Linked DNA regions of Homo sapiens. The protein of the gene in region 2 interacts with the protein of the main gene of each other region in a pairwise test. Each region holds a gene or a part of one and is shown on either strand. Other genes may lie near its edges.

Region 1 (3,818 bases), on a different chromosome or scaffold from region 2:
AAATTAAAATCCATTGATCTATTATGCACTTAGAATGAATCTTTTTGTTTTCTTTTTTGAGACGGAGTCTCACTCCGTCATCCAGGCTGAAGTGCAGTGGCACAATCACAGCTCACTACAGCTTAGACCTCCAAGGTCCAAGTGATACTTCTGCCTCAAGTCTCCCAAGTGGTAAGGACTACAGACACGCACCACCACACCTAGTTAATGTTTTGTAAGAGACAGGGTTTTGCCACGTTGCCCAGGCTGGTCTCGAACTTATGGGCTCAAGCCATCTGTCCCCCTTGGCCTCCCAAAGTGCTGAGATTAAGCTCATCAGGCCTGAAAATTTTAACTGGACTTGAATTTTACCATTATCAACAAATATTGTCAGCTATTTTCCTTGATGTGACAGATCACTGTTCACTTTCAAGGGTGTGGAGGCCCACACCTGTAATCCCAACACTTTGGGAGGCCGAGGTGGGCCGATCACCTGAGGTCAGGAGTTCAAGACCAGCCTGGCCAACACGGTGAAACCCTGTCTCTACTAAAAATACAAAAAAAAAAAAATTAGCTGGGCATGGTGGTGGGGCCTGTAATCCCAGCTAATCGGGAGGCCGAGGCAGAAGAATCCCTTGAACCTAGAAGGTGGAGGTTGCAGTAAGCCGAGATCGTGCCACTGCTCTCCAGCCTGGGCAATAGAGCAAGCCAAATACTGAAGTCTGAATAACAAAAGCATGTCTTTCATTCTTTCAAGAAAAAGTGTTCCATGAAAAACGGACCTAGTTCAGCTCACAACTCAATTACACAAGTTTTTTTTTTTTTTTTTTTTTTTTTTGAGACAGATTTTGCTCTTGTTGCCCAGGCTGGAGTGCAATGGCGCGATCTCAGCTCACCAAAACATCTGCCTACTGGGTTCAAACAATTCTCCTGCCTCAGCCTCCTGAGTAGCTGGGATTACAGGGATGCACCTCCACGCCGGGCTAATTTTGTATTTTTAGTAGAGATGGGGTTTCTCCATGTTGGTCAGGCTGGTCTCGAACTCCCAATCTCAGGTGATCCACCGCCTCGGCCTCCCAAAGTGCTGGGATTACAGGCATGAGCCACCGCGCCCGGCCAATTATTGTTCTTTTCCACAAGTAATCAACACTTAACATGCCACAAAAGTACTTTATACAGGCCGGGCACGGTGGCTCACACCTGTAATCCCAGCACTTTGGGAGGCCGAGGCGGGCGGATCACGAGATCAGCAGATCGAGACCATTCTGGCTAACATGGTGAAACCCCGTCTCTACTAAAAAATACAAAAAAAAAAAAATTAGCCGGGCATGGTGGCTGGCGCCTGTAGTCCCAGCTACTCAGGAGGCTGAGGCGGGAGAATGGCGTGAACCCGGGAGACGGAGGTTGCAGTGAGCCGAGATTGTGCCACTGCACTCCAGCACTCCAGCCTGGGTGACAGAGCGAGACTGTCTCAAACAAAACAAAACAAAACAAAACCTTTGTACATACTTCCAATTTTGTTACATAGAATATTATGACAACTAAACTCTGATTTTTTTTTATCTTGCCCAAATTCCTATCTAAGGGGTTTGGGGAGTCATGCCCTACAAATCACAAATTCTCTTCAGAAGTATTTTATTTAACCCTATACATCGTGACTTACTTTCTAACCTGAGTCTGGCATAAAATTACAAGATACAACACAAGGAAGAAAATCAAAATATTTTACCCCAAAGCATGTTTCTTTGCCATATTTTGAAATGGCCAGGGCCGGGCGCGGTGGTTCATACCTGTAATCCCAGCACTTTGGGAGGCCAAGGCAGGCAAATCACCTGAGATCAGGAGTTCAAGACCAGCCTGGCCAACGTGGTGAAACCCCGTATCTACTAAAAATGCAAAAATTAGCTGGGCGTAGTGGCAGGCACCTGTAATCCCAGCTACTCGGGAGGGTGAGGTAGGAGAATTGCTTGAACCCAGGAGACAGAGGTTGCAGTGAGCCAAGATGGTGCCACTGCATTCCAGCCTGGGTGACAGAGCGAGACTCTGTCTCAAAAAAAAAAAGAAAAAAAAAGAAATGGCCCGGCAAAGCTGTTCTTTCTGGGGGAGAATTTGCATCCGTAAAGAATCTCTATTAACATAGCTAGATCTTTTTCTTCCAGACCCTCCCAATCCTAAAGATGTTAACTAACATCTGAATAGGAAACATTTGTCTTCTATTGTCTCTAAGGGCAGCCACTATAGGACTTCAAAAGAACTTTGTTCTCCACAATCTTTTATCTTAACCAGAACATTCCCTTTCCATCAATTCTAGGTCTTTTTTTTTTTTTTTTTTTTTCAAATGGAGTTTCCTCTGTCGTCCAGGCTGGAGTGCAATGGTCCAATTTTAGCTCACTGCAACCTCCGCCTCCCAGATTCAAGGGATTCTCCTGCTCTCAGCCTCCGGAGTAGCTGGGATTACAGTCACGCGCCACCACGCACGGCTAATTTTTGTATTTTTAGTAGAGACAGAGTTTCACCATGTTGGCCAGGCTGGTCTCAAACCCTTGACCTCAGGTGATCTGCGGGCCTCGGCCTCCCAAAATGCTGGAATTACAGACGTGAGCCACCGTGCCTGGCCTTTTTTTTTTTTTTTTTGAGATAGAGTTTCGCTCTTGTTTCCCAGGCTGGAGTACAATGGCACGATCTCCGCTCACTGCAACCTCTGCCTCCCAGGTTCAAGCGATTCTCCTGCCTCAGCCTCCCAAGTAACTGGGATTACAGGGATGCACCACCACGCATGGCTAATTTTTTGTATTTTTAGTAGAGACGGGGGTTTCTCCATGTTTGTCAGGCTGGTCTCGAACCCCCGACCTCAGGTGATTCACCCGCCTTGGCCTCCCAAAGTACTGGGATTACAGATATTAGCCACTGCACTTGGCCTTTAGTTTTTGTTTTAGTTTTTGGTTTTTTTTTCTTTAAAGAGATGGGTTCTCACTGTCTACCAAGGTGGAGTACAGTGGCACAATCATGGCTCACAGCAGCCTTGACCTCCTGGGCTCAAGAGATCCCTCCTGCCTCAGCCTCTAGGTAGCTGGGACTGTGGCCCAGGCTGGAGTGCAGTGGCATGATCTCGGCTCACCACAACCCCTGCCTCCCGGGTTCAAGCTATTCTCCTGCCTCAGCCTCCCGAGTAGCTACGACTACAGGCGTGCACCACCACACTGGGCTAATTTTTTGTATTTTTAGTAGAGAGGGGGTTTCACTATGTTGGCCAGGCTGGTCTTGAACTCCTGACCTCGTAATCCGCCTGCCTCAGCCTCCCAAAGTGCTGGGATTACAGGCGTGAGCCACCATGCCTGGCCCCAGCTAATTTTTTTTACTTTTTTTTTTCTTTTTCTATTAAAAAGATGGGGGTCTCACTAGGTTGCACAGGTTGCTCAAACTCCTAGCTTCAAGTGATCCTTCCACCTTGGCCTTGTTGTACCCAAGCGAGTTAGAAAAACGCCACACTTTGAGACAAATTAAGAGTCTTTTATTAGCCGGCGACCTAGAGACGGCTAATGCTCAAAATTCTCTCGGCCCCAAGGAAGGGGCTTGATTAACTTTTATACCTTGGTTTAGGAAGGGGAGGGGGGGTCTAGTTAAAACAATTTTACGGAAGTAAAGTAGTCAAAAAGTTAAAAGGACAAATGGTTACAGGAAAGTAAACAGTTCCAGGTGCAGGGGCTTTAAGACTATTACAAGGTGATAGATCCGGGGCTTTGGGCGTTTATCAATCGGACGAATTCCTGGGAACTGCGGATATAGCTTGCCACAGTATCTTATCAGTTAATTGCATTCTTGGATGTGCTAGGAGTCAG
Region 2 (3,818 bases):
CAAAATATTTTTAAACTATTTCCAGCTCTACAATTCTGTGTTTATGCCTCTAATGATCACAAAGCTCTATAAAATTAAGGGCAAAGACAAATAATTACAGTTCAAAACTTAGCACTCATGATTTCCCTACTGTTTTTAGAACTATGCAAAACACCATCCAATGGATTCAACTATTCACATGAGGAACTCTTGAAGTCACCAAGCTCCCAGAAAGCCTGATCTTAGGTGGACACAAAATTCTGGAAAAAGGCGTCAAGTCAATATTGGTAAAGAACACAGTATACCTTGATCTGGCCCTGTGCAGCCAAATGAATGCTTGTTCAGAGTGCACGTACCACATCTTACTTATCTATTCATCTGTTGATGGACACATGGGTTGCTTCCACCTTCGGGCTATTGTACGTAATGCTGCTATGGACATGGGTGTACAAATATCTATTAGAGTTCCCACTTTCAATTCTTTTGGGTAAATATCCAGAAGTAGAAGTGCTAGATCATATGGTAATTCTGCTTAATTTTCTGAAGAACCTCCCACCATACCATTATCCACACCATTTTACATCCTCATCAGCAGTGCACAAAGGCCCCAATTGATTTAAGTAATGTGTTAAATGGCCTTTGATGAGTCACAATTTCTCAGTACCTCATGGTTTCCTCATCTATAAAACGAGGGGGTTGGAAGGGACAATCTCTAAGTTTTCTTCTGGTAGTAAAATAACTATATTGGCCTAATTAAATCAAGTTGCAATTAGAGCCAGAAAGCAGCCTGAGTGGTTGGCATAGCACACCTTGCTATCTCGAACCCTCCTCCTAATATGACAAATACTTTTTCAGAGATAAGGGCAGAGTGTAAAAAAATCATTTCATGCATGCAGCTCTCAGCAGTAATAGTGCAGGACACTTCCTGGGCACGTACCCTGTGCCAAGCACTGCTTCAGGCACCCACACATGTTATCTCATGCCAACCACGCAGTAGCCCTGTGGGTTGTACACCCCACCTGCTGAGGCATGGAAGAATTAGGCCATTTGCCCAAGGAAATGGAGAGGAAACTAAGGCATGCAAGAATTATGCCATTTGCCCAAGGTCACACAGCCTATTAGTCAAAGAGCCAAGATCTGCCCCCAGGCAGCTCTGCTCTGGAGGCAGGTTCTTAACCAACCCAATTCTGATGCCTTTCCCTCCTCAGTGTGTCTCCTCAAGTCTTGAGTGCTCTGAACATTTCTTTTTTCTCTTTGATCACATTTCTATTTAAATGTCTCAGTCCCCTGCAAAGACTAGCTGAATGTTTTCATCTATACCATTTAAGCTTCTTGTTTTTAGGCATGGAGAGTAAAATGCACAAAAAAAAAAAAAAAATCCCAGAAATCCTCTTAGTGATTTTTTTTTTTTTAGTAATTTTATCTGACAACATTTAAGTGTTTTTAAGAAAATTACATTGAAGGTACATGCCTTGAAGGAGGAAAAAACAGAATGCTTATTATGTGCCCGGGAAGTTTACCTATATTATTTCATATAATCTGGACAATCACCCTATGGTATGGATTTTATTACCTCTATTTTACAAGCAAGGACACTGAGATTCAGAGAGGCACAGAGGCTCACCAAGGCCACTCAGCCAGAAGGTAACAGGACTGGGAGGCAGGCCCGGCACTGTGAGCCCAGAGCCCCTGCTCCTTCCTATGTGGAAGATACCCAGAGAGAGCGTCGAGTGTTATTTAGGAAAATGAGTGCTAGACGCATGATATGTAACAATCGCAGCTGCTGCCTCCATCAGTGGAGCAGCTGGCATGAGAAAGGAGCTGAAATAAAGAGAAGTGAAGGGACTTGTAGCTTCCCAAAAGTGAACCTGCAAGGAGAGAGAACAACTCAGTCTCCACTGGATGCGATTCTCCTTAGGCACCAGAGGCTGTTTCCTCTTGGAGGAAAGACCATGAGGCTATTACTGGACAGTGTATCTGCTCGTTACCAAAAATATCCATATTTACATAAAAGATATAGCTTGAAGTAACTGAGCTCACCCGGTTAAAAAGAAACAAGTCTTAAAAATTCCATAGGAATCTTAACCTTGCTTAGTACTTGTCCTAGGTTCTAGGCTAAGGGGATGATACCTAGTTTCAGATTTAGTTGGAAAGCATTCTCTCAAGAGGACTCTGAAACACGAGAATGAGGTTGAGGACTTCTAAAAATGTAAAGACAAAAAATTAGGAATGTCCAACTCAAATGGTGATGTGGCCTCTTAAGATTTCTACTAGACCTAGATTCAAAAGGCATAGGGTATCTATCAGAGAAACACTGATCTGGATTGCTAATCCAGTGTTTATATTAGAGAATATAAAAATTTATTGAGGCATAGACTGACTTTTATTTCCTACCCTTCATGGTACCAAGCCTAGTGACCTTTATACACCAATGCTGATAACAGGCATTTTTTTTATGGCTTGAACCAGTATTTTAATTTGAATTATGAACTGTGGGGTCCTTCATCTAAATATTAAAACTACTAAATCAGCTACAGTAATTGGACTAAATATGTGGAGCATGGAAAACCATTAGTATGATGAAGGTGGCTGTTGCAGGCCACAGAAGGCTGGCATGCTTTTTTACAAAAAGCCAGGTGCTGGGCCATGGAAGTAGGAAAGTGATCATGCAAAGTACGCCTCCGTCTGCAGCACGATGAGGCTGTGTTATCATGGTTTATGTTATCAAAATTGGCTGCAGCCAACCTAGGTGAGTACATTTCCCTTCAGGAAGTTAAGAAACTTCATGGCACAAATCCACGAAGACAGGCCCTTCTCTGTGACTTTTTTTTTCCATAAAATTATAAAAGCCATATTTATGGTTTCCTCTAAAATTTCTACTAATATAACAAATGAACTGTTCTTACAAAAACATGTTAGATAGGAGATATTTGGTAGAATCCCAAAGTACTGTGCTTTTATTTCTGTGAAATTAGTGCTTTCTCAGTTTCAGGAGGGTACTGACACCTCAGCTTGAGGATTGAGCTATGTGTTATGATTCACTTTGGTAATATTTGCCTCAGAAGGATTTCTGTGATTATTTCTCTTTTAGCGATGTAGAGAATTCTCAGGGACAATCAAGCCTTCAGCCCCAGTACACAGTGACCCACATAAAAAATGTCCCTGAAATGGCACTGATTATAGGGCTAGAAGTTTCTAAAGAGAAACAAGTCTTTCAACAAGATAGCAAATATTTCCCACATTTTGCTTTTGTCTCAAATTACTGAAAGGATATAACTTAAGGATAGTAATTCTTATGCCATAGATACTATCCAACAGAATATAGATTGTTCTGATTTATCCCTTCTTGAAAAACTGATCTTTTATTTGCCTTTACAACCCCTCTGCATATAGTAGGTGAAAATACATGATTTTGGAGCTCAACTAATGTGGTTACAGAACTGACCCAAATTACATGTACTTTATTTTCAACATAAAGGCGTCCAGTACATGTTTATCCTCAATTCAAAGGCATCCAGCACAGTGCCTTAAATGCACACACAGAAAAGACTTTCTCAACATGATCCATTACAACATTGCACCTGCAGCCTGGGCGTGGCACCCGGCTTTCATAAGAATAACATGGAGGCAAAATAGATCTGCAGAGGTTTGGAAAACCTTCCTTCTCCTCTCCCAGCCCTAAGAGAAAGACCCGACCGCTTCATCCTGCAACTTGAAGATGCCAACAGAAACACAATTGATATAATAACAGGCTGGGAATGGCATTTACTTGACCCAAAACTCTGGTGTGGCCTGACTGTATGAAGGGGAAACATCACCTGCCCTCAACTAAAGTTACG

What was found.
Region 1: the proteins of PRKCH (region 2) and ZBTB8OS interact in a two-hybrid assay, tested with the Homo sapiens proteins (one large-scale study listed by BioGRID and IntAct).

Annotation. Positions count from the first base shown.
Region 1 is NC_000001.11:32,640,475-32,644,292, forward strand, and holds part of ZBTB8OS (protein archease), read right to left. Parts: intron 1-3,818. UniProt on the Homo sapiens protein: Component of the tRNA-splicing ligase complex required to facilitate the enzymatic turnover of catalytic subunit RTCB. Together with DDX1, acts by facilitating the guanylylation of RTCB, a key intermediate step in tRNA ligation.
Region 2 is NC_000014.9:61,530,868-61,534,685, reverse strand, and holds part of PRKCH (protein kinase C eta type), read right to left. Parts: intron 1-3,818. UniProt on the Homo sapiens protein: Calcium-independent, phospholipid- and diacylglycerol (DAG)-dependent serine/threonine-protein kinase that is involved in the regulation of cell differentiation in keratinocytes and pre-B cell receptor, mediates regulation of epithelial tight junction integrity and foam cell formation, and is required for glioblastoma proliferation and apoptosis prevention in MCF-7 cells.